Linked DNA regions of Homo sapiens. The protein of the gene in region 3 interacts with the protein of the main gene of each other region in a pairwise test. Each region holds a gene or a part of one and is shown on either strand. Other genes may lie near its edges. The genes, in order: NHSL2, CCDC57, ABI1 and VASP.

Region 1 (7,482 bases), on a different chromosome or scaffold from region 3:
TCCCTTACTGACCATTTTGCTGGGGGTCAGCATTTTACCCTGCATATCCTCCATCTGTCTGGATTGCCCTCAGATTCTTCCTCTAGCTATTTATTTTGACCATGGGGCAGGAGAAACCTGGGAAGGTGGGAGGAAGGTTGGAAAGCAACATGGCCAGAGTGAATGACAGCTGACAGGCCAGCAGTATATAGCCTCCCTGCAGTGACAACTTGGCTGCCACTGACTGAGTAGTGGCAAGTCAGACTGGCCTATAGCCTGCAGGCTGGGCTGGGGCCCTGAGAAGCAGCAGGGGAGGACAGAGAGAGGAGGAGCGAGATAGAGGAGGAGAAAGTGGATGCTGAAGAAGTTGAAGGTGCTTCTCTACACAATCACAATCATGGGTCATGCCCCCACCATCTTCAAGGTTACAGGGGTGGACTGGGCTAGGCTAGTTGCCTCGCAACATCCCACCCACTCCACTGAAGGCTGTTCTTTGGTAACATGAACCCCTTTGAGACTGCCCTAAAAGCTCTTGTAACTGGTATGGTGTGGGAGATGGGGATGGAAGGAGGAGACGGTAGACCACAGGACTGCCGAAGGCCCCTGTGGTTGTGGATCTGTGGCAGTTGCCACACCCTAGGCATGGCCCTGCCTATAAGTTGAGGTTTTCCCCACATCTGGTTTTGAATGTGTCCTGTTTTATGGCATCTGTGGCCTGTACACTGGGTTCTTCATCTAAAAAATGGTGTAGTCAAAGCCATTGGGAAATAGCTCCATGCCTGCCACCATATGCTGAGTCAATCTAAGCTTTCCAACTTCTCCCTTGGAGATCTATATAATGTTTGTAGGTGCTTAGATGATAATTACAAAAGCAATCAGGCCATCCGCGTAGGGATATAATATCTCCTTTGCCATCAAGGAAGTCACTGAAGGGCTAGATAATTCTAGGTATGTTTAATAACACTGGAAAACTATCATGTTACACTAGCTCATGAACTTGCTGTGGGAAAGATGTTCTGTTGCTTCTTACAATTATTTTGGCTTGAATACAGCCAGTTGGGTCCGTGGTGAAAACTCCCTCTTCATCTTTATGTAAAATTCCTACTTCTTGATTTTCCAACTTTATGGCAACTCTGGCTCCAAATCAGAAAGGACAGCTGGTTTATTTGTGTTTAAATCATAATTCCAGTGTGAGGATAGACTGTTGTAAATCTATACGGAGATGAAAAAATGAAAAAAGCACCTCCAGACTGCAATGAGTTTGCCATTAGATGAGGTGTTGTGGACCCTGAGTCTGACCGTCCTTGCTAATGAAGAGAAGAGATGGCCTCTTGAGTCAGATGGAGTGGGGAGGGTGGCAGGAATTTGGGGACTTGGAACAGGCACTCAGCCAGGGCTTACTTTGTCTCTGTGGTACGTTTCATCCCGAGGCTCTTGGGACAGAGGGTTGACAGAGTATGGAGGGAGAAGCAAACCCATTTTCTTTTCTCTTCCCACCCCACCCTGCTTTCCATTTTCTTTTTAAATACCATGAAATTCCTGGTCTGCTTCATGGTATTTCCATGTGTTGAAAACATCTTCCCTGGAGATTTGGATACCAAAATGTCCACTAGAATTTCTTCCACTTTAGAAACAAGACATTTAATCTTCTCTTTTTTAAGACACATGAATAGCTAAAGTGATAAAAGTGTCAGGATGTTGGAATAGTAGAGTAATAGGAGAAGATTCAAGTTATGGCTCTTGGGCTCAACCTTGACCTTGACGACATTGATTAGGTTTTAGGAGGAGAGTGGTATATTTACATCATCTGTTCCTGTACCTCTCTGGTGTGGTACCAACAATTCAGTCATTAACCACCATATGTGTCATAACACTTGACATCCCGGACCCAGAAAGGGGAAGGTACCTGTCCAAAGGCACCCAGCTGGATCAAGACCTTCAGTAGTCATGAGTGCTGAAAAGATTTTAGTGCCTCCCCATATGTAATTCCAAGTGAAAGCAATACTAAACCTTTAAACAAAAATGTTACTCTTTTTAAATGGCTCAAAGCTCACATGGATGTTGAAATTAAAATATCTTACTAGATTCTTTCTCCCTTCCTCTCTGTCTTTTGTACCCCTGCTGTTGGTGGCCTAATCATGTATTTAATCTGCTGATTTGGGAATGTGGTACCGGCTGGGTCACACAGCAGGTCAGTGACAGGAGGCCTCCACCTAGAAGCCATGCCTTCTGACAACCAGACTAGTGCTCTGCCCTCTGCAGTGATGCTAAGTTCAAAGTCAGTTGTTCTTCGAGAGTCATTTTCTTGGCATTTTCTCTAGTTGGAACTTGTCCAGGATGAGAAATAACTCCTGTTACCTTTAGTAACTGAGGGCACCCTGTGGTTCTGTAGTTGTGGCCGGGGGTGAGCTGAAGCTGGAGAGGAGAAAGGAAGGTCAAACTTTCTCATATAGAGAATATAGAGAATAGGTGTGAGGCAACAGGCTCTCTTGTTAAAGCAAAACATAGTCTTCTTTGAATGGAAAATTGCTCCAGAAAAAGGATCTTCAGGTGGGAAGGGGTGGCTGGCCAGTGACCCTGACACTGTTGCAATCCCTCCTGATCCCTCTGCCATCTTTATACCTGTTCTTCTCCCTTGTAGCTTTCAATCCAGTTGTAGACACTACTTGCCACACACCTGCATCCTGACTATTTTCTGTTATTCTAGTAGAGGCTGGTTGGCATTTCAGAAGGCACCTTTTATTAAAAACCAATGGGAACAAGAAAGTAACATTATTACCAAAAGTGCATTTAGCATACACATTTACAGGGTATGGATTTCTTATCCTTCAGTGCTCAAGTAGCTTAACAGGCTCACTGGCTTTGCTGCTGTATTCCCTTTCTGAAGGCCTCAAATCGTCTTTTCCTTAGATCATTATTTTCTAGCCTCGAAAAGTGGGCACAACTGCGTCTGGACCCTGTCTGACCTTTGTGCTGGGTGCTAAAGACCCAGAGGTGAATAAGACCCAATGTCTCCATTCGAGGAGCTGCCAAGCTGCAGAGGTAGGTGCCATCTCATTCCTGACCACATCAGCATGTGGTGCCTGGGAATCAGGTCTTATTTAGGTGGAGGAGAGCTGATAACCAGAACCAGGACCCTAGTTCACATACCAGAAGATTCTTCTGCTCAGTCCGGTTTGGCGTCCAAAGATGGAATTTGGACTTTTAGAATTCCCTATGGTAAAAACAAAAATAAAAACCAATCTGTCATTCTGTTAGTGTTATTGTGAATTTAGCAATGCTTTTAAATGAATTTGCAGTTTTAAACACTATAATGTTATCTTCATGCATATGAAGAGTAGTGCTTATTCAGTCCATAGACAATGCTTGGTGGATCTGCAAACTAACAGACTTCTTGTGATAACTCTATGGTCCTCTAGAGTCCTCTACTGTCAGTTGGGAATCGCTGGCCTTCCTGGTTCAAGCTATCAGCTCTCCCCTGCTCTGTGGAACTCCACAATTTCACTCAAATAAGCCCTCATTGAAGTTTTCAAGTTAGAGGGCACAGGATGGCAATCTTAACAGTCAAGACTACTTTAATAATGCCACAAACAGGAGGTATGTTTATTAAGTGTACAGGTAGTTTGCAGTAAAGTGCTTTGTATGAGGTCATGCACAAGACCACTAGGTATCAGCCAGTTAACTTGGGAGGTTTGAGCAATTAGGCAGCTCTTCCTCCCTCCCTTCCTCTCTCCCTCCCCCCTCCCTCCCTCCCTCCCTCCCTCCTTTCCTCCCTTCCATTCCCTTCCTCCCTCCCTCTCTTTCTAAAATGTAAGCTCCTCAATAAGATATAAGCTCCTTGAGGGTAGTAGTCTTTATCTGTTTTCACTGTTGTGTCTCCAGCTCCCAAAACAATGCTTGGCACCTAATAGGCACTTAATAAATACCTGTTAGATTGAATACCTTCTTTCTTTCTTTCTAGCTATCGCACACTCTTTGAGTACTTGACTCTGGGCCCTGCCCTGTGCTGATTTCTGGGGGTACAGAGTAGAACTAGGATGCAGGCCCACAGTCCAGTGGGGAGAACAGTGAGCCATAGTGCTGTGGAGATAAGGTCTAGGCTACCGGGGCAAGGCAGAGGAGGCACACCTGACTCAGGACAGAGGCTGAGCGAAGCTTCCAGGAAGATGTGATGTCTGAGTTCTGAAGGATGATCTGGAGCTGGCCGTTGAAGGTTGAAGAAGGTGGGGGAAGGAATTCCTGGCTCAGGAAGTAGCCTGTGCAAAGCCCTGGATATGTGAGAGAGCTGGTGTGGGGGAGGAATTCACTGCCAGTGATTCAGGAGGAGAGGGAGCAAGGCACCTCCTGACTCAGAATAAGCCCCCAGGGTGGAGGTGGGGTGGGAAGTTCCTCACATCCTGTTTGTTCGTCAGGGAGTTGGATATGAGGGTCTTGAGAAGGTTAAACTGCATGGTTCAAATGAAGTTGTAATATTAACTAACTGTGGATTTTCTTTATCTACACTCAAGTTTTCATTATCCTTGGGCAGATGAGACCCAGGCAACCTCGGCTCCTTCATGCTTTGCAGGGCCAGGCCCTGGGCCCCTCTAAAAAGGCTAGACAGAGCAGGAGGGGCTCCGAGCCACAGTGAGAAAGAGAGAGAAAGCAAGAGTCTACCTGCCTGTGTGTCCCCGGCTGTGTGTATCCAGTTGCACTCCAAAGCTAAATGTATTATTTATGCCCCTGCTTTTCTGTGAGTGGGGAAATTTGAGGCTTGACGATATCTTTTATTATTATTTTTCTTTCTGAATAGCATAGATTCTTCAGAATCGTCTGTAATTCATCAAGGGGAAAATCAGAATTTTTTTTTTTTTTTTAAAATGGACTCAAAGAGGAGATGAGTTTTTAAAAAATATCTATCATCTGTTTTTATTTTGACTGGAATCATTTGCTTCCGAGCACAGTGTAATTAGCTGCCTGACAATTTATAGCCTGATCCCCAGTAACTGAAAAATACCAAACTCAAATTATTCCCCCAGACTAGGAGGCCCGGAGGTGATTGAGGTCTCCTTACGTTAACATCCTCTGTCCTTGGGGGCTGAGGGGGAGGGCAGTTCTCTGCCCTTGCAGGAGGTGGTATCTCCGAGTTGTCAGCAAGACAGGCCTTGTTGTTATACACTGAGTGTCTCCTTTGACTCAGTAATTCCATTTCCAGGATTTTATGCTAAAGAAATAATCAGATATTGTGGGGGGAAAAATGTGCAGGGAACCCCCACTGCATTTTTTGGTTATTTGCATTAGCCAGAAAAAGGAAAATAACTTACACATTCAATAATAGGGGAGTGGTTATATAAATTTTCCTAGGTCTATGTGATAGACTAATATACAGCCATGAAAAGCTATGCTCTAAATGAATTATAAGGCTACATGGAAATGCACAAAATAATGCTGAGTAAAAACCAAAGATAAAATTTACTACTATATACAATATCGTCTAAAACAGAGCACCCACACAGACACATACACATAAGAAGAAACTGGAGAAGCCTATGCCAAAATGCTGACAATGATTATCTCAGGGTGATGGGATTATGGGGATGAGTGGTAGTATTTTCCTTCTACCATTCTGTATTTGTCAAAATTTCCCCAATCAACATCTATTACTTTTAGTAAATAGAAAAGACAATGGATGACATGTTAAGGAAAAGGATCTTTGGATTTGGAATCGTCAGCTTCCAGGTGAAGTCCCACTTGCCCAGCACCTACTATCTGACTCTAGTGTCTCTGAGCCACAGTTCCTCATCTGTAAAATGGGGTTAAATACTACCCAGTTCACAGGGTTGTTGTGAGGATCCAAAATAATGTATGTATTAATGAAATGCCTGGTGCCTATGCTGCAACCATGGACACCATCACTAAATACTAAGAAGGTGAAATTCCACGAAGCTTGCTGAAATCCCTGGATGGGGGTACTGTCAAGATGAAGTTATAATAAGAATGTTCCTAGACAGCTATGAATTGCAGCCATTCTTCCCTTTTCCAGAATATGTAAAGAATGTTTGTGTGCCCACGGAGGAGCCGCATCTAGCCTTTGAGGCTGTCAGCTCATCTTTCCCAACCCGAGGATTTTCCTTTCCTCTGACTCCTCCCTTCATTCTCCCCCACTGACATCTGTTCACTGCCTCGCCAACCAAGGGGGAAAACATTCTTTGGAACTGAAGCTGAGGCACCACCAAGAGTCAAGGCAGCTATGAGATGTTTATTGTCACAGAGAATATGTGGTGCTGGCTGACCACAGAACCTGCCAGGCTGGGATGCCAAGGAGGGACTTTAATGAAGCAGCAGAGGATGGATGCAAGCCGCATAGCCAGGCAGTGTCCCCTGCCTTTGGGCAGAGCTCTTGTCCAAGTGTCTCACTGGCTCTCTGTTTTCTTCCCCTTGGGATGTCTGCATGGCTCCTGGTTGAGCTCACCAGTTTTACAGAACCAGCCTGGTTTATGGGTGAAGAAACACCTTCTCACAGAACTTATGGGGCCTAAGCGTGTTTCAGTAAAGTACTGGGCAGTTTGCCTGAGGGCCCAGCATGCCTAACTCTCACCAGCGTGGATATGAAGCGAGGAAAACCTGAGCTCACAGCCAGGCAGCCTCAAGGACATAGGCACACCTCAGCAGTGTCTACAAGATGCCCTGGCCACCAGGCAATCCAGCCATCTCCCTGGGTAGAATCCTTCACACTGCATGTCTGATTGCATTTTTCATTTTTTAATTACAGCCGTAGACTCATATAGACTCTGACTGCCAATCTAAAGCACCTAGAGAGTTTTTTTAAATTGTTAATGTTTTGCTAAATTCTTAGTAATTATACAAAATCATTATGTAGACCAATAGATATTATTGACCAAGATATAGTGATGCTTAAAACAAAGTCCTCTGTAATCAGTACAACATGTTGGTAGAATTTACCCTAAATGTTAAAAAAAAAAAAAGTACTAATGCTGTGGCTCCACCCCATACCAATAAATCCAGAATTTCTGGGGGATGAGGCCCAAGAAACAGTACTATTTAAAAGTTCCCATGTGATTCTACCGTGCAGCTTAGGTGAAGAACTCCTGTTATAGATGTTAAAGCTGGGAGAGACCCAGTTTCCTGACTTATTTGAACACGCAATCCTTTACAAATTATACTTGTGGATAATGAGCATGAACTATGATGCAGACTTAGATTAAAGTAAGTGACAAAAAAAAATGATCTCGCAGATGAATTAATTGTAAGCAGTAATAATGCGAGGTTAGGTTACATATATATTTTGTTTTTGTTTTTTTTGAGACTGAGTCTTGCTCTGTCGCCCAGCTGGAGGGCAGTGGTGCGATCTCGGCCCACTGCAACCTCTGCCTCCCAGGTTCAAGTGATTCTCCTGCCTCAGCCTTCCTAAGTAGCTGGGATTACAGGTACCCGCCACCATGCCCGGCTAATTTTTGTATTTTTAGTAGAGACGGGGTTTCGCCATGTTGGTCAGGCTGGTCT
Region 2 (7,599 bases), on a different chromosome or scaffold from region 3:
GGACAGAGCAGGGCGTGCCACAGGCACTGGCCAGATCCAGATCGGAGCAGGGCCCGCCCACACCCACCGGGCCCTTTCATTTCTTGGCTCCTCTCCTGCCACAGGGCCTGTGAGCCAGACAGATGGAGAAGTTGCCTCTGCAAGTCTGACGTGGGCATTCCCCAAACCTGAGAGGAAGTGGCTTGCTCTGGCCCATGCAGGCTGGTGCCCAGGCGGGGGCCCCCGCACCTCTTGTCCTGGATCCCTGTGCTTTTAGGGCCCTGCAAGAGGCCTGGAGGCCTCAAGCAAGCAGCTTTTGGGGGCTCCCATGGTGAGGTCTGCCACCAAGGTCAGTCTGTGTTCTGGGAAGCAAGAGCCTCAGCCCACACTTACGCCCTCAGCCATGGCCTTCTGACCTTCCTCTCACCCTCCCTTGTTTACCCCACTCAGTGACATGCGGCTGCCTGACACCCAGATGTGTGTCTGGGTGGGTGGGGCATAGGTGCCAGGAACGCAGCTGGGAGCAGGACAGCCAGTTCCCCACCCACCTTGCTCTGCCACAGAGGCATGGGAGGGTCAGGTCCTGGCCGTGTCACTCACCGGGGCACCAGGAAGGGCCCTCGGCCTCCACTGTCGTGGCATGATGAGGGTGGTTGCAGGACGGCCTGGGGGAGCCAGCACTGGGGGCTGTCAGCCCCACACAGGTCCAGGGCTGAATGGTGGTCCCCAAAGAAATAGGATCCAGTCGTAGCCGCTGGTCCATTAGAATGCGGCTTGGGAATAGGGTCATCGCCGACGTAATTGGCTGGGTGGTCCTGCTCCAACGTGATGGCGTCCTAAGAAGGGCAGCACATGGAGACAGACACACAGGAGAAGCCGCATGATGGTGGATATAGGGGCGGGAGGGGGCGATGTGGCTGCAGCCAAGGGTGCCGAGGCTGGAAGGGTTAGGTGCCTGTGGTCCCAGCTACCTGAGGCCAAGGTGGGAAGGATTCTCCCATAGGGCTTTTGGAGGGGCCATGGCCCGGCCGACATCCTCAGCTTTCCTGAACTGGGAAAGAAGAAAGGACCAGTTTGGGGTTCTTTGTTTTGGCGGCCCAGGCCCTGGCTCACACCCTGTCTGCCTTCCACCTGTGAGTCCTGCTGGGTGCTGGAGGCCAGGAGTGAAGGGAATGTGGTCTCCCTCAGCCAACTCCCGGCCACCCGCACTGAGGGTGCCCAGGTGGAGCCCAGCTGGGGAGCTGGGCAGGGAAGGAGGGGGAGGGGTTCTGCAGTGTGGGGGGGGCAGGGAAGGAGGGGGAGGGGTGCTGCAGTGTGGGGGGCAGGGAAGGAAGGGGAGGGGTGCTGCAGTGCTGGGGGGATTCAGTAGGTGTAGCCTCGGGCCTGAGCTGACGGCGGGCGCTCTGGGACCGTGGAGCTCAACCCAACGGAACGGCCCTCGAATCAGAGCACAGGCTGTGAGGGCCAGACCGGCCTGCCCCACAGCTTCAGGAACCAGGCAGTGCCCGTGGCACACCCTGCTCTGTCCCTGGGGCACCCGGGCATGTGGCTCAGCTGAAGGGGTGACCATGGGTGCCATGCTGCTGACTTGGGCCAGCACACGATTCCAGGTCCAGATACCCATGACGTGACAAATGACCTGCTAGGGCCGCATAACTCAACACCACAGCCTGGGCGGCTTAAACGACATTTATTTTCTCACTTCCGGAGTCTGGATGTCAGGGATCAGGCTGCCGGCAGGGTGGGTTCCTCCTGAGGCCTCTCCATGGCTTGCAGACGGCACCCTCTCCCTGCGTCCTCATGTGGCCTCTCCTCTGTGTGCTCACTCCTGGTGTCTCTTCCTCTTCTTTTAAGGACAACAGTTCAGGGTCCCACCCTTAGGACTCACGTAACTTTAATTACCTTCTTAGAGGCCCTATCCATAACACATAGGTTTAGAGGGTTTTTTTTGGAGACAGGGTCTTGCTCTGTCACCCAGGCTGGAGTGCAGTGGCGCGATCATAGTTCACTGTGGCCTCGAAGTGCTGTGTTCAAGTGATCTTCCCACCTTGGCCTCAGGTAGCTGGGACCACAGGCATGTGCCATCACACCCGGTTAATTTAAAAAAATTTTTTTTGGCCAGGCATGATGACTCACACCTGTAATCACAGCACTTTGGGAGGCCGAGGCAGGCAGATCACTTGAGGTCAGGAGTTTGAGACCAGCCTGGCCAACATGGCAAAACCCCATCTCTACTAAAAATACAAAATTAGCTGGGCATGGTGGCAAGTGCCTGTAATCCCAGTTACTCAGGAAGCTGAGGCAGGAGAATCGCTTGAACCTGGGAGGCGGAGGCTGCAGTGAGCTGAGATCACGCCGCTGAACTACAGCCTGGGCAACAGAGCGAGACCCTGTCTCCCGAGCTCAAAGGATCCTCCCTTTGGCCTCCCAAGGTGCTGGGTTCACAGGTGTGAGCACTGTGCCCGGCCCACACATGGGTTCCCATAGATCCCACTTTACAGGCAGGGACACTGAGGCATGCAGAGCCGGGATACAGACCAAGCAAGTCCTGGCTCCTCTTCTGGGTGTCCCAGCCCGTCTCGGACACCCACGCTTACCCAGGCCTGGTGGCTGCATCGTGGACATGGGGGCAAGGCAGCTCTCTGGGTGGGCAGAGGCAGGAGCTGAGGCAAGGATGTGGGCATCCTTTTGGGTACATCTAGTCCTAGAGCTGATCCAGGGGCCAGTCAAATGTGCAGCCAAAGTCGGGTCAACCCCAGCACTGTCCTGTGGGTGGGGGTAGCAGGGAGCCAACAGTCCAGGCCCTACATCCTGTTCTAATAGAGTGACAAGTCTGATGAGGCTGGGGGTGCACAAGCACTGAGAAGGCAGCAGGACAGGGAGCCAAACACATGGGGTGGTGGGGGAAACCAGGGAGCTGGACACAGGGTGGGGGGGTCCTGGGAGTTGGACACATGGGCCAGGTTGGGGGTCCAGGGAGCTAGACACAGGGGGTGGGGAGGGGAGTCCAGGGGACTAGACACAGAGTGGGGGGTGGGTCCAGGGGGCTAGACACACAGTGTGGGGGGTGGGTCCAGGGAGCCGGACATACACATGGGGTGGGGAGGGGGCATCCAGGGAACCAAGTCTAGGCAGAGGCAACTGGCGCAAAGGACCTGAGGCAGAAGAGGGTTTGGTGTGTGAGGCGGGACTGAGGACTGTGGGCGAGGGAGACAGCTCTACCAGGACGCATGGTTCGGGGAGGACAGGCTGCAGGGTGCCTGGGCTGCAGGCACGGCACGGAGAGGAGTGATCCAGTGTTAACAATGTGGGTGGAGGATGACACCAGACCCCTGGCTTATTGCCCCACCAGGGGAATTCCCAGACACCAAACACCCCCTCCACTCCCACGCAGAATTGCGGGCTGAGGGTTCGGGTGAGCCAGGCTGCTCTGTCCCGGGGCCGGGCTCTGTTCATCCATCCGCAGATGGATACGGACACGTGCCTTTTTCTGAGGATGTGAATGGTTGGGAATGGCTGTGCCTGAGGATGTTGTTCCCACAGGATGGTGGGGGCGACTTCGGGCCTCGGTGGGTCCCGACCCCCCTCCTTCCCCCAGTTCCCTAATCAGGGTCTGAGCGACCGCGCGCACGGCCCCTGGGCCCCGCCGGTCTCCGAGCCCGTGGGCAGCGCCGGGAACTCGTGCCCCGGTGGCCGCAGCCGACCCTTAGGCAGGACTTCGTGGCGCCCCCGGCCCGAACAGACCCCCACGGGCAGCCTCGGCCGCCCCGTGCTCCCTTCATCTCAGGGCAAAAGCTCAAGTCAACCCTTCGGGACCGCGAGCCGGGCGGCCTCAGGAAGCGGGCGCCTGGGGACCCTCGGCCGGGCCGGGGGCGGCGAAGGTGGGGGCGCCTCGCGCGGCGGAACCCGCCGTCCCCATAGCCCGGAGCCCCGTCCGGAGTCGCCCCGCTGACCGGTGAGGAGGCCGGGCTCCCTCCTTCGATCTGCGGCGGTGGTCGGGTCGGCCGGGGCGCCCCTCGGACCCGGGCGCAGCGCGGAACCCGGCGGGGCGGGAGGGGCCGGAACCTAGCGCCAGGGACCCCGTTTCCTGTCGGCGGGACCCGAGCGCTGCACCGAGCGCAGCCGGACGCGGCCGACTGACCCGGTCGCTGTGGCAACGCGGCGGGACCTGGCCAGCGCTGCTGGCGGGCGTTAGGGTGAGGTGCGGGCGGGCGGCGTGGGAGGCGTGGGAGGCGTGGGGGGCGCCGCTCCGACCACTCTTCCTGTAGAAAACCCCAGCAGCTGCCGTCCTGTCGGACGCAGCGCTTTGGTGGGGACCTGGAGCGCGAGGTCGACCCTCAGAGCTCGGCCAGGCCCGGACCGGGGATCCCCTCGCGGAGGCTGCGGCGGGGCGGGGCGGGGGTTGCGGCCGCGTGGAGCGGGAGCGTTCCCTCGGTCTCCCGTGGGTGACCTGGGGCGGTGGGCGCTGCCGACCAGGGCCCCGCAGCCCCGGGAGAATTCCCCGGGTTCCGCCGCCGGCAAGGACGGCTCCGCGCCCAGGCAGCCTTACAGTGTCTGTGAGTTTAAAAAAAAAAAAAAAAAAAGAGAGGAAAAAAAAAGGCCGGAGGCGGTGGTTCGCGCCTGTAATCCAGCACTTTGGGAGGCAGAGGCGGGCAGATTGCTTGAGGCCCGGAGTTCGAGACCAGCCTGGCCAACATGGTGAAACCCCCTCTCTACTAAAAATACAAAAATTATTGGGCGTGGTGGTGCACGCCTGTAATCCCAGCTACTCCGGAGGCTGAAGCAGGAGAATCGCTTGAACCCGATGTTGTAACTGAGGGAGTTATAGAGAGAACGCCACACTCTGAGACTACTCAGGAGTCCTGTATTGCCAGCGACTGACAGACTGCTAGAGCTGCAAATTCCCTCGGCCCCGAAGAAGGGGCTAGATTTCTTTTGATACCTTGGTCTAAATAGAGGAGGGGAGGCTAGCTGAAGCGATTTTTTTACAGAAGCAGAATAGGCAAAAAGTTAAAAGATAAATGGTTACAGAAACAGTTACAGGAAAATAAACAGTTCCAGGTACAGGGGCTTAAATTATCACAAAGTGATAAACGCAGGGGCTTTGGGTACCATCAACCGAGCGCGTTCCCAGGAGCTGCTGGTACAGCTTGCTCCAGTTTCTTATCAGTATTTTATCAGTAAGCGCATTCCTGGATGTGCTTGGAGTCAGCTTGCCCCAGTTATGTCCTTAAGGGACGGGGACAAGGGGCTGCAAGCGAAGAAACCAAAATGGTGTCTGTCCGGCCCTCTCAGCTAAGAGAGAGTCAGTCAGGTTAAAACAAAGTAGGGTACCACACCGAGAGGCGCAGGTTGCGGAGAGCCAAGATCGCGCCATTGCACTCCAGTCTGGGAGACAAGAGCGAAACTCGGTCTCAAAAAAAAAAAAAATTATCTGTAACTTAGAAAAAGGATACAAAAGGAGCACAGATTTCCCGTGTGCCTTTTGCCCAGAGCCCCTAGAATGCTGACCTCTTAGAGAACCACAGTTCATTCAGCAACATGTAGACGCTGGCGTTCATGTTGGTATCATCCCATGATCTGGTCTCCAGTATTTATTCTTGCTTAGCAGCTACCTCATGGATGACTTTACCGTGGTCCAGGATCCAATGATGAGTCCACTATTTTATAAAATGCCCCCCAGTTCGGGGGCATTTCTCTGATGTTTTGTCATAATTGATTTCATATTACTGATTTTTGGCAAGAAAACCTCAACAGGGAAATTGTGCCCTTCCCAGCGTCTTACGAGACACAGGATGCCCCTGGCTGTTGGTGCTAGTCACGTCCTGGGGGCTGAGGTGGTGTCTGCCAAGTGTGTCCATAAAGTTAGGGTCCTTCCCTTTGTAAATAATAAATATTTTGTGGGGAAATATCTTGCCACTATGTAAAAGATGATGTTTCTTTCTTTCTCTCTTTTTCTTTTTTTTTTTTCTTTTTTTTTTTTTTTTAAGACGGAGTCTCTCTTTGCCGCCCAGGCTGGAGTTCAGTGGCGCGATCTCGGCCCACTGCAACCTCTGCCTCCTGGGTTGAAGTGATTCTCCTGCCTCAGCCTCTCAAGTAGCTGGGATTACAGCCGCCCACCACCACCCCCAGCTAATCTGTGTATTTTTAGTAGAGACGAGGTTTCGTCATGTTGGCCAGGCTGGTCTCAAACTTCTGACCTCAGGTGATCCACCACCTTGGCCTCCCAAAGTGCTAGGATTACAGGTGTGAGCCACCGTGCCCGGCCTTTTTTTTTTTTTAATTAATTTTATTTTTTTGAGACTGAGTCTCTCTCTCTCTCGCCCAAGCTGGAGTGCAGTGGCTTGATCTCGGCTCACTGCAACCTCTGCCTCCCGGGTTCAAGTGATTGTCCTGCCTCAGCCTCCTGAGCAGCTGGGATTACCAGCGCCTGCCACCATGCCCGGCTATTTTTTTTTTTTTTGTATTTTTAGTAGAGACGGGGTTTCACCATGTTGGTCAGGCTGGTCTCGAACTGCTGACCCCAAGTGATCCGCCCGCCTTGGCCTCCGAAAGTGCTGGGATTACAGGCCTGAGCCACAACGCCCAGCAAGATCTTGTTTCTAACCATACTTCTGTCACTAATTTTAGCACCCATGAGTGTTTCCCCAAAATAACTGTTAATGTGCTATTTGTTAAATGATTTTTCTGTTTCCATTACTCCTACATTTATTAGTTGGGATTTTCCTATAAGAAAGAACCATCTCTTCCCAGGCTGGCTTGCAGGGGCGCGGTCTCGGTGTTAGTGCATCTTTTTATTCCATGGATTCTAACCCATCGCTATCACGTACTTTGTTGCTCACATTATCCAGATTGAGGTGTTAGGAGCCCCTTCAAGTTGGCCTCTCTGTCCTTATAGCACGTCCCAACCTTCTGGGAGCATTTTCTTTCTTTCTGGCATCACAGAATTCAGGCTTATCTTATGCTTGCCTTGACATATCCCAGAATCAGTCATTTCTCCAAGGAGCCCTGGTTCCTTTTAGTTTAGAAGGTAGTGTTTAGAAACCAAGATCCCAGTACCAGATAGACATATTGCTACTGGGATGCCATTTCTTCTTGGCTTTCTTAATGGATAGAGTAGGAAACGTGTTTCTATACACTATACACATGCAAATCTATTTCAGTATATCTGTGTCTCTGTATATATTAAAAACTGGCTGGGTACAGTGGCTCACGCCTGTAGTCCCACCACTTTGGGAAGCTGAGGGGGGAAAATCGCTTGAGGTGAGGAGTTGGAAACCAGCCTGGCCAACAAAGTGAGACACCCATCTCTATAAAAAATTACAAAATAAATTAGCCAGCCATGGTGGCGTGTGTCTGAGTCCCAGCTACTCTGGAGGCTGAGGTAGGAGGACCATCTGAGCTCAGGAGTTTGAGGCTGCAGTGAGCTATAATCATGCCACTGCACTGCAGCTCGGGTGACAGAGTGAGATCCCATCTCAACAAACAACAAACACCAAAAAAACCTGTGAGTTTATTACAAGTTACGCACTTGTAATCAAGTTAGGTTCACCTGTTTCTACTTCATTTTGAGTCCTTACTGATTTTAAGTTTTTTTGTTTTTTGTTGTGCTTTGTTTTT
Region 3 (7,345 bases):
AAAAAAAAACTATTGGATAAAGTGAGTGCCTTTGGAAGAAAGGAAGCTGATTTTCATCATAAACCCTCTGTACTTTCATTTTGTTATGTCTTTATTCTTTATTTTTTAAGTAAGTTTTACTTGTGTTTTTTTTACATTTAAAAATGTTGTATAAAGATACTTTGTACATAGAACTTCTGAGAAATTCTAATAAGTAAAAATTAGGGGAAAACGAATGACTATGTAATATTGATGAGCTAGTTGCTTTGCATGCTAATAGAATAAAAATTTGCTTCAATATGAGAAAAAGGCCTAAAGGAAGTTAGCACTATGAGTCGGGAAAAGAACATTAGAGATGTAGTTTGACTGTTAACTGTAATCCTCAGCTCATCTGATCTCAAAACTATGTGTTCATTTATTATAGCAGGAAGTTAAAACGCTGATTCAGTCAGTGACAGGCATCTGTTCTGTTTTGTTCTGTATCTTATAGAGTGATGGTGTGCAACAAACAACCTACCTCGCCCAGCAGTACTGCCATGAAGCAATAAGAGAGATCAGTAAACTTCGACCATCCCCAGAAAGAGATGCCCTCATTCAGCTTTCAGAAATTGTACTCACAAGAGATAAATGACAACTCTTTCTGTTCTTTCTGGCAGCTATCTTACCAGACTGTGCCTAAAGAATTTTGTGGAATACACTTTGTTTGCTTCATGTGCAGATAACCAAAAATCATTTTAAAAGATATCAAACTTATTGATGGGCAATTTATTTTTTTTTATTGCAAAAGTTTTTTCAGAAAACTTTTTAAATGTAATTAATAAACCACCTGAATCTGTCATTCTAGTCCTATAAATTATAATCAAGGTATCTTGATGGTTATATGTGGTATTGTTTACACTGTTAATATCCACATGTAAGGCCATTACACAAATAAATAACCAATGTTAAAATTCAAATGGTTTGTCTTGATTTACCGTAGGAGTAAAGGTCAGAAAAATGTGAAGTCTGCATTGAAGTCCACATGAGTTATATTTTAACAGTATCCAAAATTTCATATAGGAGAATGGTTTATTATAAAAGACTGTACATAAAATTTAGACAACAGGTTATATACAAATTAAGAGAACAATCCACTTGAAAAATGGAAAGTAGAAGGTAGCTAGCTGATCACTAATGATACTTTGTTTGTTTAAAATTAACAAAGGCAAAATGCATATGAAATAGTCACATTGATTTGGTAGCAATAATGGTCTTTAATTTTCAGAAATAACTGTTTTGCACTAGTCTTACCATTCACTATGCTGTTATAAGTCTGTAGCATCCAGTACATAACTGTAATTTGAATTCCAAACAAATCCTCAATAACACAGAAACCCACACTTGAGTGCTCTACTTTAATATCCTAAGCAATAGAGAATTATACACAAGACAAGAAGAGAAAACATCCCTCAGCCCTCCCTTCAATTAAGAGGAGACACACAAAGTGCATGTGTTGCATTTTGATTATGTCAAAAGACAATCCAAGTCTGTTGGTTAGGTAAATCTCTGTTCACTGATTAATACATGACCCACCTTCTTTCCCAATTATTTTATTTTAAAATTCTAATGTTGCTAGTGCCAGGTAATGGATTAAAGAGTGCCTACTCACAAATCAACTGTATCCACTTTTACAATATGTAAAAGGTACTTTTAACTTCCTTTCATTGAACCAGTGTACAACAGTTCACTGTACAACTGAAGGACTGACATGGCAATCCTTAAGAATTTTACCTACAGAATGAATGCACACAATTTGACACATTTTCTTAGTTTCAAAAGATTATTTAAAAAAGGAATTCAGTAGATTGACTTGTAAATAACCATTGCAGATTTTGAATCTGCAAAAATCCGTCACATTGCTGTTGGGACAGATTAAGATAAGGCTAAAATTTTTTTCCAAGTTAACATATTGAGAAAATAGAATCATAATTCTGCAATAAATCATTATCTTTTATTTTTTTTAAAGCAAATCAGTGAAGGAAAGGACAAAAACCTTTGGTTCACTTATGTATTTATGAATGGAAAAAGTTTATAATGCAAATTTCACTCATTAAAAAACTTAGGTACAAATTACAACATTACAGATAATTCTCTTTTTGCTTGTTTCACATGGAGACCTTGGAGACTCAATTCACGTTAAGACACCTAAGTACGAGTCCTCCAGGTAAATATTACACAAATGGGAAGCATCTTGAATTTTTAAGTATATTTCAATACATAAATTTTTATGCATGCTTTAAACAAACAGTATTTTTTTTAAATGAGAGAATCTAACAAAAAAAGTCTGACCAGCACCAGCATTTAAATTTTCTGATTTTAATATTAGTCTGACATAGCGTTAGTAACCATGCTGCACTGAAACATGTAATGGTACAATCTGAATCATGATTCGTTAAATATTATACCCCACTTCCCCCAGAATATTTAGGCTGGTCATAAAGTTAAAAATGTGTAAGTAAGTACATAAGCATAATCAGTTATGGACAGCTTCTTGTATAAATTGCTATTCAGCAATACATAAACTGCCTCAAAGATTTATGCTTACAGGTAGACATTCAATTTACCAATAAAACAGCATGTTCTGAAAATATGGGCACATTTTAAAACATATTAAGACAGTTCTGTTAACCATAATAGTCCCACAGTATGACTGAGTAATAAGAATCTACTTCAAAAGAAAAAAAAAAATTAATCAGTATAGTGCATGATTGATTCAACATAGTTCCCAGGGAACAGACCAGTCACTCGATTGCAGACTCCTTCATACCAGCCATCATCATTCTTCTTTATAACATAAATGATTGCACCCTCCATAAATGACAGCTCATCATCCTTGTCTTTTGTATAATCATATATTGCAACAACTATGGAAAAAACAGTTGAAATATCACATGAGTGCACTATATCCAAAATTTACTTGAATTTTAAGACAAAGACAATTAAATATATAGCACAGCAAAACTATTTTTATGAAGATTTCTTAATTTTTGTATCTATCAATATAAGTAGGTCAGTGGCCAACCATGTACTTAAATCATTGGCTTAATCTTAGAGCCAAATGACAATCTGATTAGACTGAATACATCAATAGGTTCTGTCAATCACTTTAAGAAAGCTCTCTGAATTTTAGAATTTATTAGATGTTTCAATTCATTCAAATACCAAGTGCCTATCATATGCAAAGCACCGGCTTTTCAAAATAATTATCAGGCAAAGAAAGCTGCATAGCCATTCAGTAAACCAGGTAACAATCCAAGCTATCTAATTTGAAAAAACACAGTTACTGGAAGGTAAATCACATCCTACTCATTCAAGGACCCATGCTAATTTAAGGGACTGTCCCCAGATTTTTTTTTAAAGAATATTTACTTACTTTAAAGGATTTTAATTAATACTTAGAGAACTTTGCAATTCTGTGGTGTCTGTAATTTTTTCAGTTCAAGATACAGGTTGAGTAACCCTTATCTGAAATGCCTGGGATCAGAACTGCTTTGGATTTGGGATTTTCAGATTTTGGAATTTTACATATGCGTAATGAGACATCTTGGAGATGGGACCCAAGTCTAAACACAAAACTCATTTTTGTTTCACATACACCTTATACACATAGTCTGAAGGTAATTTTATTTTTCCCTTGGGAACACTGAATAAACTGTGTCATGTGCCTGCATTTTGATTGTGACCCATCACGTGAGGTCAGGTGTGGAATTTTCCACTTGCGGCATCATGTTGGAACTCATTTTGGATTTTGGAGCATTTTGAATTTGGGACTTTCAGATAGGGATGCTTAGCCTATATTCACTTCCTTTGCAAACTGCTATGGAAAGAGAAAGTAATCCAAAATGTATAAAATGGCCCATGGACAAATCCAAACCACGCAATTTTTGTAAATAAAGGTTTATTGCAATATGGCCACATCTACTTACTCATGTATTGTCTATGTCTGCTTTTACGCTACAATAGCAGGACTGAGTAGTTGTGACAGAGACTGTATAGCCAGCAAAGTTTAAAATATTTACTATCTGGCTTTATACCAAACAAAGTGTGCTCACCCCTAGTTCTTGGGAATATACTTTTTAATCCTCCTCTACTATCAAATATATTACCCAATATATCATTCCAAATTTGTCAACTTATATAAATATGGTCCCATTTTCACAGTTAATTGGCTTCACCAAGTAAGAAAATATGGGTAAAAACACAATTCAAGGTCACTCAAGTTTATCATCCTCGTAAGTAACAACAGCTCTCTATTTGAAGGTATATGGGAATCTCAAGTAGAATATTCAAGACTTTCTTAACAATATGTAAATTACTTACTGTTTAAAAATATAAGGCCACGCTCGGCTCATGCCGGTAATCCCAGCACAGGGAGGCTGAGATGGGCGGATCACTTGAGGTCAGGAGTTCAAGACCAGCCTGGCCAACATGGCAAAACCCCATCTCTACTAAAAATACAAAAGTTAGCTGGGCGTGGTGGCGGGCACCTGTAATCCCAGCTACTTAAGAGGCTGAGGCAGGAGAATTGCTGGAACCTGGGAGGCGGAAGTTGCAGTGAGCCGAGATTGCACCACTGCACTCCAGCCTGGGAGACAGAGCAAGACTCCATCTCAAAAAATAAAAAAATATAAAAGGAAAACAAATTTACTTTTGCCACATATCCAAAACTTGGGCAGGAAAGAATGCTGCTGGTCTCAAGAGCTACATCTACTAGCTTAAAGTCCGTTAACCCAGTAAAGTCAATAGAAGGAAATATATTTCAAAGGCAACCAAAAGTGTTCAACTAAATCACAAGCATTTTTCAGAACTCTATAGAAATACAGATTTTATTTTTAATTGATTCCCACTTCTGCAAAAAGAAATACAGATTTTAAAATAGCACAGAACTGGATGAAAAAATAAAAACTAGAAACAGGATTTGTTTCTTCCCCACCTATATTTCTTAATAGATAATTATAGTGAATATCGGGTACTATAGGTAAATTAGACTTTAGAGTAGTTCATAATTTCATGAAATACAATCCTGATAATTTCTCTTGTGTTTTATAAAATCACCTAATTGAAACCTTAATTGAGGCTTTTCTCATGATAGTACTAATATATTTTTAAAGACCGATGCTCCTCCACTTACATACAATGGGGTTATGTCCCAATAAACCCACTGTTTAGTGGAAAATATTGTAAATTGAAAGTACATTTTCAACTTGTATTTTTTTTACTTATAACAGGTTTATCCAGACAAAGCTCCATCATAAGTTGAGAAGCATACTGAATGCATATCATTTTTGTACCATCATAAAGTTGAAAAGATCCTAAAGTGAACCATCATAAATCAGGGACCGTCCATATTTAGATATGAAAGGTAATCAATAGAGCTTGACAGAACTTTTAAAATCTTTACTAATTACATATAACTCCATTTTTGTGCCTTAGCTGTTTCATCTATAAAATGCCGTCCAGCAAGTTAATCTTCAGCTGAACGCATATGTAGTTTGAAAGCAAATCTAACACTGCAACTTTTATTTAAAATACAAAGAAAGAATCCCCCTGTACACTGGGAATAATACAAAACTTAGGAAGTAAGGTTTAAGTAAATCATCTTGGTTGGTAAGGCAGTTTAAAAGGCTGAGAAACATTGGATTAGATGTTCTTTATAGTTCTAAATTTCTACAATTAGGTTATTTTCCTTCACATCAACTCAATGACTGTACCTTACCTTTCTCAATATAATTCTTGGGGGCCCAAGCAGGATCCCCATCTGCATATGGATCATTATACTGAACTACTGCAGCCTCCTCATCTTCATAATCCACTGGTGGTGGTGGTGGGGGAGGTGGAGAGTCATCAAACATGGGAATGTCATCTGGTGGAGGTGGTGGCGGTGGAGTTGGACTATCAGCAACTAAAAAGATTCATATGATTGATTTGAATCAAAAATAAGTCTAGATGGAAACTTATAAGTTAACAGAATTTAAGAAAGCTCTAACTTAAGTACAGCATGCACTATAATAAAACATGCAATGATTAGAAATAAAAGCTTGGTGTGTTAAAGTTTATGCTACTCAAGAATCATTTAAAAATAACAAAATGAGCTAAAAATAAGGGTATCTGGAAGTACTACAAATTAATGAATGCAGGGTGTTAGGAGACAATGTCTCTTTTTATAAGGATTATAGGAGTAGTTTCCTTATTCCAAGGTTCAGATCGGGACAAATGTTAACAATCTAAAATAAATCTATGTCACTTTTGTCATTTGGACTGCAGTAATGATATGAGTAACATTACGTTAATGGTTTGATCACTCTTCACTCTGCTCATTCATGCCCCTGATTTTGGCTTGAAACAGCTTTGGTTCCCTAAAAATTCAGTCTCCTGTGGACAGATTTTTGTTTCTTTGTTGATTATTGTTTGTTTTGATGAAGAGAAAAGTAAAGTTGGTAGTATTAGGTCTGCTTCTGTGTGCAGATTTTCTACTCTGTTATTTACATTTTACAAGTTGAAAAAATGGAAAAAGAATCCCCAACCAGTAGAAAATCTAATTGAGTATTTTTAAAAAGGTTTATATTCATAATTAGTTTTTTAATGTAGAAAGCAAGCTAAAATTTTGCATTATTGCTAGTAAAACATAAGCACGGGATGAGGGAAAGCCTAGATCCTAAAGATTCGATTTTCTAAGAATACATCAACAATTAAGATTTAAACATAAAGTGTTGAAGATGTAATTAAAAAAAACAAACAAAAAGGAACTTACAGTAAACAAAACAATAAAAATGACTCATACCTCAAACTCTAGATGGTCGTGGTCAGTATATATGTGTGTGCTTTACACAGTCAAAGGTGTAAACAGGGAAATGGGAAAATGTCAGGCTAGAGCTCTGTTCAATGAACTAGTATAATATCAGGTAAAAATGCTCCTAAAATTTAAAGAATTCAAAGCTGGAACCCAATTAATGCTTAACTTAAATTTCTGATCAATAAATTTCTTTAAAAGTTCAAAAGACATATGAAAATGTTTTCATACAAATTGATACAGGAATTACATAATTCCTGCAGGGGAGAAGTTCATAATACAAACATACTAAATCAAATGCCAATTTCTGGGGCTATTTACGTGATCAAAGAAATCAGCCATAATCTATCTGTCATATAGGTTTAAACGTTTAGTCTACCCTCCTTGGAATAATGTGCTGAATATACAACCAAGGGCTCCAGGTTTAAAATATTTGCAGATAATGACCCTATTTCCATAACCACTTCAATGCTGTGATTTCTATTTTATCCTCTCGAGGGATGAAAGGGCTATTAGAAAACAAACCCTATATGGTAA
Region 4 (7,482 bases), on a different chromosome or scaffold from region 3:
GCTTGTTGCCATCATCATAAAGCATCACAGTGGCCCGGCTGGAACAGATGACCGTCTCGCTGCAGGCGGGAGGAAAAGGGAGAGGGGCCGGTCACCTTCTTATCTGGGTCTCTCCTGGGAGATTCCAAGGGACAAAGACAGTGTGTGGAAGGAAGAGAGTGACACAGAGGGAGGCAGGAGCCACGTGGACAGAAGGAGACGGGGGAGACAGATCAGGAGAGAAAATCAGATCAGGAGAGACAGGCAAACACACAAACGAGATGCAAGAGACAGACGCAGAGAGAGGTGGGAAAGGGAGAGTCGGGTTGACAAAGAGGAGAGACAGACTGAAGGCAGACAGACAGATGAACAGATGGGGGAGGGGTGGGGAAAAAGGATGGGCAGACAGGGGACCTGGAGGAAGAGGCAGACACAGAAAGAGATAAAGATGGTCTTGGCGTGGTGTCTCACACCTGTAATCCCAGCACTTTGGAGGTTGAGGCAGGAGGATCACTTGAGCCCAAGCATTTCAGAGCAGCCTGGGCAACATAGTGAGACCCCATCTCTAATAATAATAATTATTATTATTATTTTTATTTTTGTTTTTGAGACAGAGTCTTGCTCTCTGTCACCCAGGTTGGAATGTGGCCTCGACCTCCTGAGCTCAAGCGATCCTCCCACTTCAGCCTCCCAAGTAGCTGGGACTACAAGCATGCACCACCACACCCGACTAATCTTTTTTTTTTTTTTTTTTTTTTTGAGACAGAGTCTTACTCTGTCACCCGGGCTGTCCTCGGCTCACCGCAACCTCTGCCTCCCAGGTTCAAGCCATTCTCCGCCTCAGCCTCCTGAGTAGCTGGAATCACAGGCATGCACCACCAAGCCCAGCTAATTTTTTGTATTTTTAGTAGAGACGAGGTTTCACCATGTTGGCCAGACTGGTCTCGAACTCCTGGGCTCAAGTGATCCATTTGCCTCAGCCCCACAAAGTGCTGGGATTACAGGGGTGAGCCACCACACCCAGTCCACAAAAAAACTTTTTTAATGAAAAATAAAAAACACAACACAACAAAACTAATAAGAAGGAAAAGATAAAGATGGAGAGACAGGCTGAGGGGTGTAAGAGGCCGAGGCCAATGCCAGTGGGGGGATGCGGGTTAGCAGAGCAGAGGGCAGGAGGGAAGACAGAGGGGCCAGAAGGAGGCCAAGAGCCCAGAGCTGCACTAGGGACCAGCCCCTGCCTGACCTCAGTTTCCCTATCTCTACGCACCCCCCTCCACCACTGCCTGCTCAGGAAGAAGCTGAGGCTTGGGAGGGGAAGTGTGAGGCCTGCAGCAGGTTGGGGACCCATCCCAGACCTCTGAGCTCTTCCTCCAAAGGGACTTCCCGCTGCCCACCCCTCGCCTGGCTCCCCAGGGCACTAGCGGCCATTCCCCAGATACTCCCTGCTCTGTGTCTGGCCTATATTGGGTGGGGCTGGGGATGAAGACACAGCAGTGACCCAGACAGCTCCGGCACCACCCTCCTGGGGCTCACAGTCCAGTGTGGGAGACACAGCTGTCCCCAGACGGTACCAACCCAGGTTTAGGACCAAGGAGCCCAGGGTCTGGGGGTACCCTGAAGGAACGCCTGCCCCAGCCTGGAGAGTCAGGCAGGACTTCCTGGAAAAGGCAACGTCTGACTTAGCCTGGGTGGGAGGTGTCAGTAAACTGGTGCAGAGTTCAGGAGCTGATATCCCCAGACCTGGGTTCAAATCCCCACTGAGCCACCTACTTCATGTGACTCAGGCACATGACCTTCCCACTCAAGACCTCTTCTTGCCTGTGAACTGGGAAAATGACAGTCCCCACCTCCAGGGCAGTGGGGGAGGGGCACATGAATCTGGGCACCTAAAGGGCTTGGTACAGCCGGGTGTGGTGGCTCACGCCTGTAATTACAGCATGTTGGGAAGCTGAGGTGAATGGATCGCTTGAGCTCAGGTGTTCGAGACCAGCCTGGGCAACATGGTGAAATCCCGTCTCTACAAAAACGTACAAAGATTAGCTGGGCGTGGTGGTGTGCACCTGTAGTCTGAGCTACTCAGGAGGCTGACGCAGGAGAATCGCTTGAACCCAGGAGGTGGAGGCCGCAGTGAGCTGAGATCACGCCATTGCACTCCAGCCTGGGCGACAGAGTGAAACTCTGTTTCAAAAAAAAGAAAAAAAGCTAAGTGCTTGGTACAGCGTCCAGCACACGCCGAGAGCTCAGTAACTGTCAACATCCCTCTCATGGGCACCACTGGGGCCCGGGACAGCTACAACCCTCGGGACCCTCCCACCAGCCCCTCTGGGAGGTTCAATCCCCTCTCCCCCAGTGAGGAAACTCAGGCCTAGACAGGAACTCAAACAGGAAGTGACTTGCCCAAGGTCACACAGGGGAAGGGGAAGCACTGGTCTCCTCCCCACCCCACCCACACCAGGCTTTTTCCTGAAATGGGGAAGTTGGTGGTCAGAGGTTTCCGGGGACAGAAATTAGACACCCCCCGCAAAGCCTCTGTCTCTAGGAGGGCTGGGGGCTGGGTGTGACACTGATGCTGGGAAGTCAGGGCAGGGAAAGTCCCTAGGCAGACTCAGCTGTGGGTAGGGACCTGGGGTAGGGACCCTCAAATTTACCTAATTGTGCCATCTCCCTCTTACTAGGCATTTCAGGTGGATCAGGGGCCTTAAGCCCCTCCCCCAAAGTCACTCATTTTATTCTCACTGCAGCTTATCCAGAGAGCCACTCATTCTAATTTTGCAGGTGAGGACTAGAGGCCCAGAGAGGTTGAGTGACTTGCCCACAGTCACACAGCTACTGAGGAATAGAGTGAAGATGTGAATTCAGGCTTCCAAGCCTTAACCACCGGGAACTGTGTGGGCCCCACCCAAACACCAGGTGCCCTTTCCAGACAAACACAGCCTCGGGGGCTGTTTCTGGCTCCTGCTGCCCCTGGCAAGGCAGGGTTAAGGCCTCGGCCTCACCCACACCTGCCACCCACACCCAGGGCCGACTCTGGCCAGGAGCCCGGGGCTGCTGCTGCCCCGCCCTGGCTGCACTTTGCTCTCCCAGGCAGCCCTGCCCTACTGAGGCTCTGGACTGGCCGGAGAACAGGGCGCCTGCTGGGTGACCAAGGGGTGGTCTTGCCCCTCTCCAGGGAACACTATACCCATTGTAACAGAAGGATCCTGTTAAAACACGAGGTGGGGCGGGGAACGGTGGCTCATGCCTGTAATCCCAGCACTTTGAGAGGCCGAGGCGGGAGGATTGCTTTAGTCCAGAAGTTCAAGACCAGCCTGGGCAACACAGTGAGACCCCCCATCTCTAAAAAACAAAACAAACTAACAAAAACCTACAAGGTGGGATGTCTCTTCTTCTTCTTGAAGGCTCCAGGCTCCTACGGAATCAATGCCAAGTTCTCTCCAGGGCCTCCGTGATCTGTGTGTCCTCAGATCTCATTTCTTCCCGCTCCACTGTCCCTTGGGGACTCTGTTCCAGACCCTAGACCTCCTACCCCCATGCTGCTCTTCCCGCAGGCCAGACACATTCCTGCCTCGGGCCTGTGTGCTGCTTCTTCCTCAGGCCTAGCCTCTCCCCACTTTCAGGTCTCTCCTTAGATGTCACCCCTTCCAAGAAGCCGTCCCTCACTCCCTTAGCTGGAAACGCTTCTCTCCTTTTCATCCCCTGCTGCACATTTCATAGCAGTGACCCCTGCCCAACACAATATTTGTCTGTCTCCGCTGCCAAAAAGGCAGAAATTTGTGTCCCAGTTGTTCACTGCTGTGTCCCCAGAACCTAGAATGGCGTCCAACACATAGTAGGGACTCAATAGTTACGAAACATCTGTAAAAAAAGGCAAACTTTGGCCAGGGGAGGTGGCTCACGCCTGTAATCCCAGCACTTTGGGAGGCTGAGGCAGGAGGATCACTTGAGCCCAAGAGTTTGAGATTGGCTTGGGAAGGCTGGGTGTGGTGGCTTATGCCTGTAATCCCAGAACTTTGGGAGGCCAAAGCAGGTGGATCTCTTGAGGTCAAGAGTTCGACACCAGCCTGGCCAACATGGTGAAACCCTATGCCTACTAAAAATACAAAAATTAGCCAGGCATGGTGGCTCATGCCTGTAATCCCAGCTACCCAGGAGGCTGAGGCAGGGGAATCACTGAACCCAGGAGGCAGTTGCAGTGAGCCGATCTCAGACCACTGCACTCCAGTCTGGGAGACAGAGCGAGACTCTGTCTCAAAAAAAAAAAAAAAAAAAAAGGAGAGAGACTAGCTTGGGCAAGATGGTGACCTCCGTCTGTACAAAAAACTTTAAAATTAGCTGGGTGTGGTGGCGCTTGCCTGTAGTCCCAGCTACTCAGGAGGGTGAGGCAGGAGGATCACTTGAGTCCAAGAGGATGAGGCTGCAGTGAGCCTTGTTCAGGTCACTTGCACTCCAGCCTGGGCAACAGAGCAAGACTCCCTCACAGAGCAAGACTCCCTCACAAAAAAAGGCAAACTTTTACCTAGGACACCTAACATTTCTCAGTCAGCCTGGGTCCCAGACACTCTTCTTGGTGCTTGACACCAATTTCCCTGCTGCATGACTCTACAACCTCATGGGATAGGCTCTGACGCTCACCCTTTTGACAAGGGGGAATTGCAGGCACAGAGGAGTGAAGGCACTTGCCCCAGATCACACAGCAAGTAAGCAGAGGGGCTCATAGTTGAAACGAAGTTCCCACAAGTTCTTAACTTCATTTAAAGATGAAGAAGCAGAGCTAAATTGAAATTTTTAAAAGCCAAAGTACAAGGTAGTGTTGATCAGAGGCTTTACAAAACCAAAAAAAAGGTCGGGTGCGGTGGCTCATGCCTGTAATCCCAGCACTTTGGGAGGCCAAGGCAGGCGGATCACAAGGTCAGGAGTTTGAGACCAGTCTGGGCAACATAGCGAAACCCCGTCTCTACTAAAAATACAAAAAATTAGCCAGGCGTGGTGGCGGGCGCCTGTAATCCCAGCTACTTGGGAGGCTGAGGCAGGAGAATCACGTGAACCCAGGAGGCGGAGGTTGCAGTGAGCCAAGATCACGCCACTGCACCCCAGCCTGGGGGACAGAGCAAGACTCCGTCTCAAAAACAAAAACAAACAAACAAAAAAGGTAGGCTAGGCGCAGTGGCTCAAGCCTGTAATCCCAGCACTTTGGGAGGCCGAAGCAGGCGGACCTCTTGATGTCAGGAGTTTGAGACCAGCCTGACCAACATGGTGAAACCCTGTCTCTACTAAAAATAGAAAAATTTGCTGGGCGTGGTGGCGCGTGCCTGTAATTCCAGCTACTCAGGAGGTGAGGCAGGAGAATTGCTTGAACCTGGGAGGTGGAGGTTGCAGTGAGCTGAGATCGCGCCACTGCACTCCAGCCTGGGCGACAGAGCAAGACTCCATCTCAAAAAAAAAAACAGTGAGGAGCATATATAAATATATCTGCACTCAGAGTGGTGATATATGCAGAGACTGTTTCCCAAGACACTAACTGTGGCTGCCTCCATTGAGGGGAACTCAGGAACTGGGGAGGGAAGAAACAAATATTTTGTACCATTTATCTTTTGAGACAGAGTCTCTCACTCTGCACCCAGGCTGGCAGTGGTGTAATCTCAGCTTACTGCAGCCTCCACCTCCCAGGTTCAAGCAATTCTCCTGCCTCAGCCTCCCAGCCTCCACTTCCCGAGTTCAAGCGATTCTCCTGCCTCAGCCTTCTGAGTGTCCGGGATTACAAACGTGTGCCACCACGCCAGGCTAATGTTTCTATTTTCAGTAGAGATGGGGTTTGGGCGTTTGCCACATTGGCCAGGCTGGCCTCAAACTCCTGACCTCAGGTGATCTGCCTGCCTCGACCTCCCAAAGTGCTGGGATTACAGGCATAAGCCACCAGGCCCAGCCACCATTTCAATAATTTCAGTAAGTATTTCAAACTGCTTATTATTTGTTTTCTTATCATGGGTTGAAATTACCTATAAAAACCTAACTCACTACTTAAGTTCAATAAATAAAACTGTAAACTACACAAAAGCCAGAACGAAAATCCCATAGCCATAAAACGGGGGTGCGGGGGCTGTGAGATGGAAAGGAGTTCTGCCCATTTCCAGTGTGTTTTCCCGAAGTCTAGAACCCTCCATTGGACATGAGAACACTTTAATTTTCCAGCCAGCCCAGGACCCACTCCTCCCTGCAAGTCCCCACATTTTGGAAAACTCTAGCACATGGCGGATGAAAAGACGGTTCAAGTTGCCTCCTTGTTGTGTGGCTTTGCCTCTCTGAAACTCAGTTTCCAGCCCTGGAAACAATAACTCACTGGGTTCATTGTAAGGATTAAAAGAGATAATGGACAAAAAGCCCTAAACGCAGGAACTGTAACTTGGTACACGCTCCACATGAAGGAGAGAGCTTCCCATCACCAGAGGTAATCAAGCATGGTGAATCCGGTTTTCACAAAACTTGCAGTCTTACCCTTCCCTTCACTGTCCCCTGAACCCAAGACTTAGCCCATACCCTCCTTATACCATAAAACCTATGATACATATACACCACCCTTCCAAACGACAAATCTTCTTTTGTCGGGGATGGGGCTACTCTAGTCCCTTCCTCCTGGTGGGCCTCAGTTTCCCATAAGTGAATAGGAAGATAAATGTTGCAGCTTCGGTTTCATTTGGCTTATCTGAATTATCTTAAGAGTTTTCACAGTGAAAGCACGTTCCTTTTTTTTTTTCTTTTTCTTCATTAAGAACACGGAAAGCATGTTATCTCTATTTTTTTTTTTTTTTTGAGACAGGGTCTCACTTTGTCACCCAGGCTGGAGTGCAGTGGCAAGAATATGACTCATTGCGGCCTCAACCTCCCCAGCTCAAACGATCCTCTCGCCTCAGCCTCCAGAGTAGCTGGAACTACAGGCGCATGCCACCACACCCAGCTAATTTTTGTATATTTTGTAGAGACGGGGTTACACCATATTGCCCAGGCTGTTCTCAAACTCCTGGGCTCAAGCGATCCTTCTGCCTTGGCCTCCCAAAGTGTTAGGATTACAGGCATGAGCCCCGGCGCCTGGCCCTGTTTGAGTTTAATAGGCACCTTGCCTAACTTTCCTGTGCCTCAGTTTCCCCATCTATAAACTGAGTACCGGGGTGGGGAGGCCACAAGGTTGTAATAGTATCATTGTTCGAACTGCCATGAGGGGCCAGGTGTGGTGGCTGACGTCTGTAATAATAACACTTTAGGAGGTCGAGGCGGGTGGATCACCTGAGGTTAAGAGTTCGAGACCAGCCTGGCCATCACGGTGAAACCCTATCTCTACTAAAAATATAAAAATTAGCCGGGCATGGTGGCAGGCACCTGTAGTCCCAGCTACTCGGAAGGTTGAGGAGGAGAATCGCTTGAACCCAGGAGACGGAGGTTGCAGTGAGCCGAGATCATGCCATTTCACAACAGCCTGGGCAACAAGAGCAAAATTTCCGTCTCAAA

What was found.
Region 1: the proteins of ABI1 (region 3) and NHSL2 interact in binary tests that used the Homo sapiens proteins (3 or more experiments, as listed by UniProt).
Region 2: the proteins of ABI1 (region 3) and CCDC57 interact in binary tests that used the Homo sapiens proteins (3 or more experiments, as listed by UniProt).
Region 4: the proteins of ABI1 (region 3) and VASP interact in binary tests that used the Homo sapiens proteins (3 or more experiments, as listed by UniProt).

The regions. Positions count from the first base shown.
Region 1 is NC_000023.11:71,913,542-71,921,023, forward strand, and holds part of NHSL2 (NHS-like protein 2), read left to right. Parts: intron 1-7,482.
Region 2 is NC_000017.11:82,209,361-82,216,959, reverse strand, and holds the start of CCDC57 (coiled-coil domain-containing protein 57), read left to right. Parts: upstream 1-4,117; 5' UTR 4,118-4,175; intron 4,176-7,599. UniProt on the Homo sapiens protein: Pleiotropic regulator of centriole duplication, mitosis, and ciliogenesis. Critical interface between centrosome and microtubule-mediated cellular processes. Centriole duplication protein required for recruitment of CEP63, CEP152, and PLK4 to the centrosome.
Region 3 is NC_000010.11:26,745,864-26,753,208, forward strand, and holds the end of ABI1 (abl interactor 1), read right to left. Parts: intron 5,921-7,345; coding exon 5,735-5,920; intron 2,883-5,734; coding exon 2,707-2,882; 3' UTR 733-2,706; downstream 1-732. Other genes in the region: all trans-polyprenyl-diphosphate synthase PDSS1, read left to right, coding at 470-610. UniProt on the Homo sapiens protein: May act in negative regulation of cell growth and transformation by interacting with nonreceptor tyrosine kinases ABL1 and/or ABL2. May play a role in regulation of EGF-induced Erk pathway activation. Involved in cytoskeletal reorganization and EGFR signaling.
Region 4 is NC_000019.10:45,510,240-45,517,721, reverse strand, and holds part of VASP (vasodilator-stimulated phosphoprotein), read right to left. Parts: intron 60-7,482; coding exon 1-59. UniProt on the Homo sapiens protein: Ena/VASP proteins are actin-associated proteins involved in a range of processes dependent on cytoskeleton remodeling and cell polarity such as axon guidance, lamellipodial and filopodial dynamics, platelet activation and cell migration.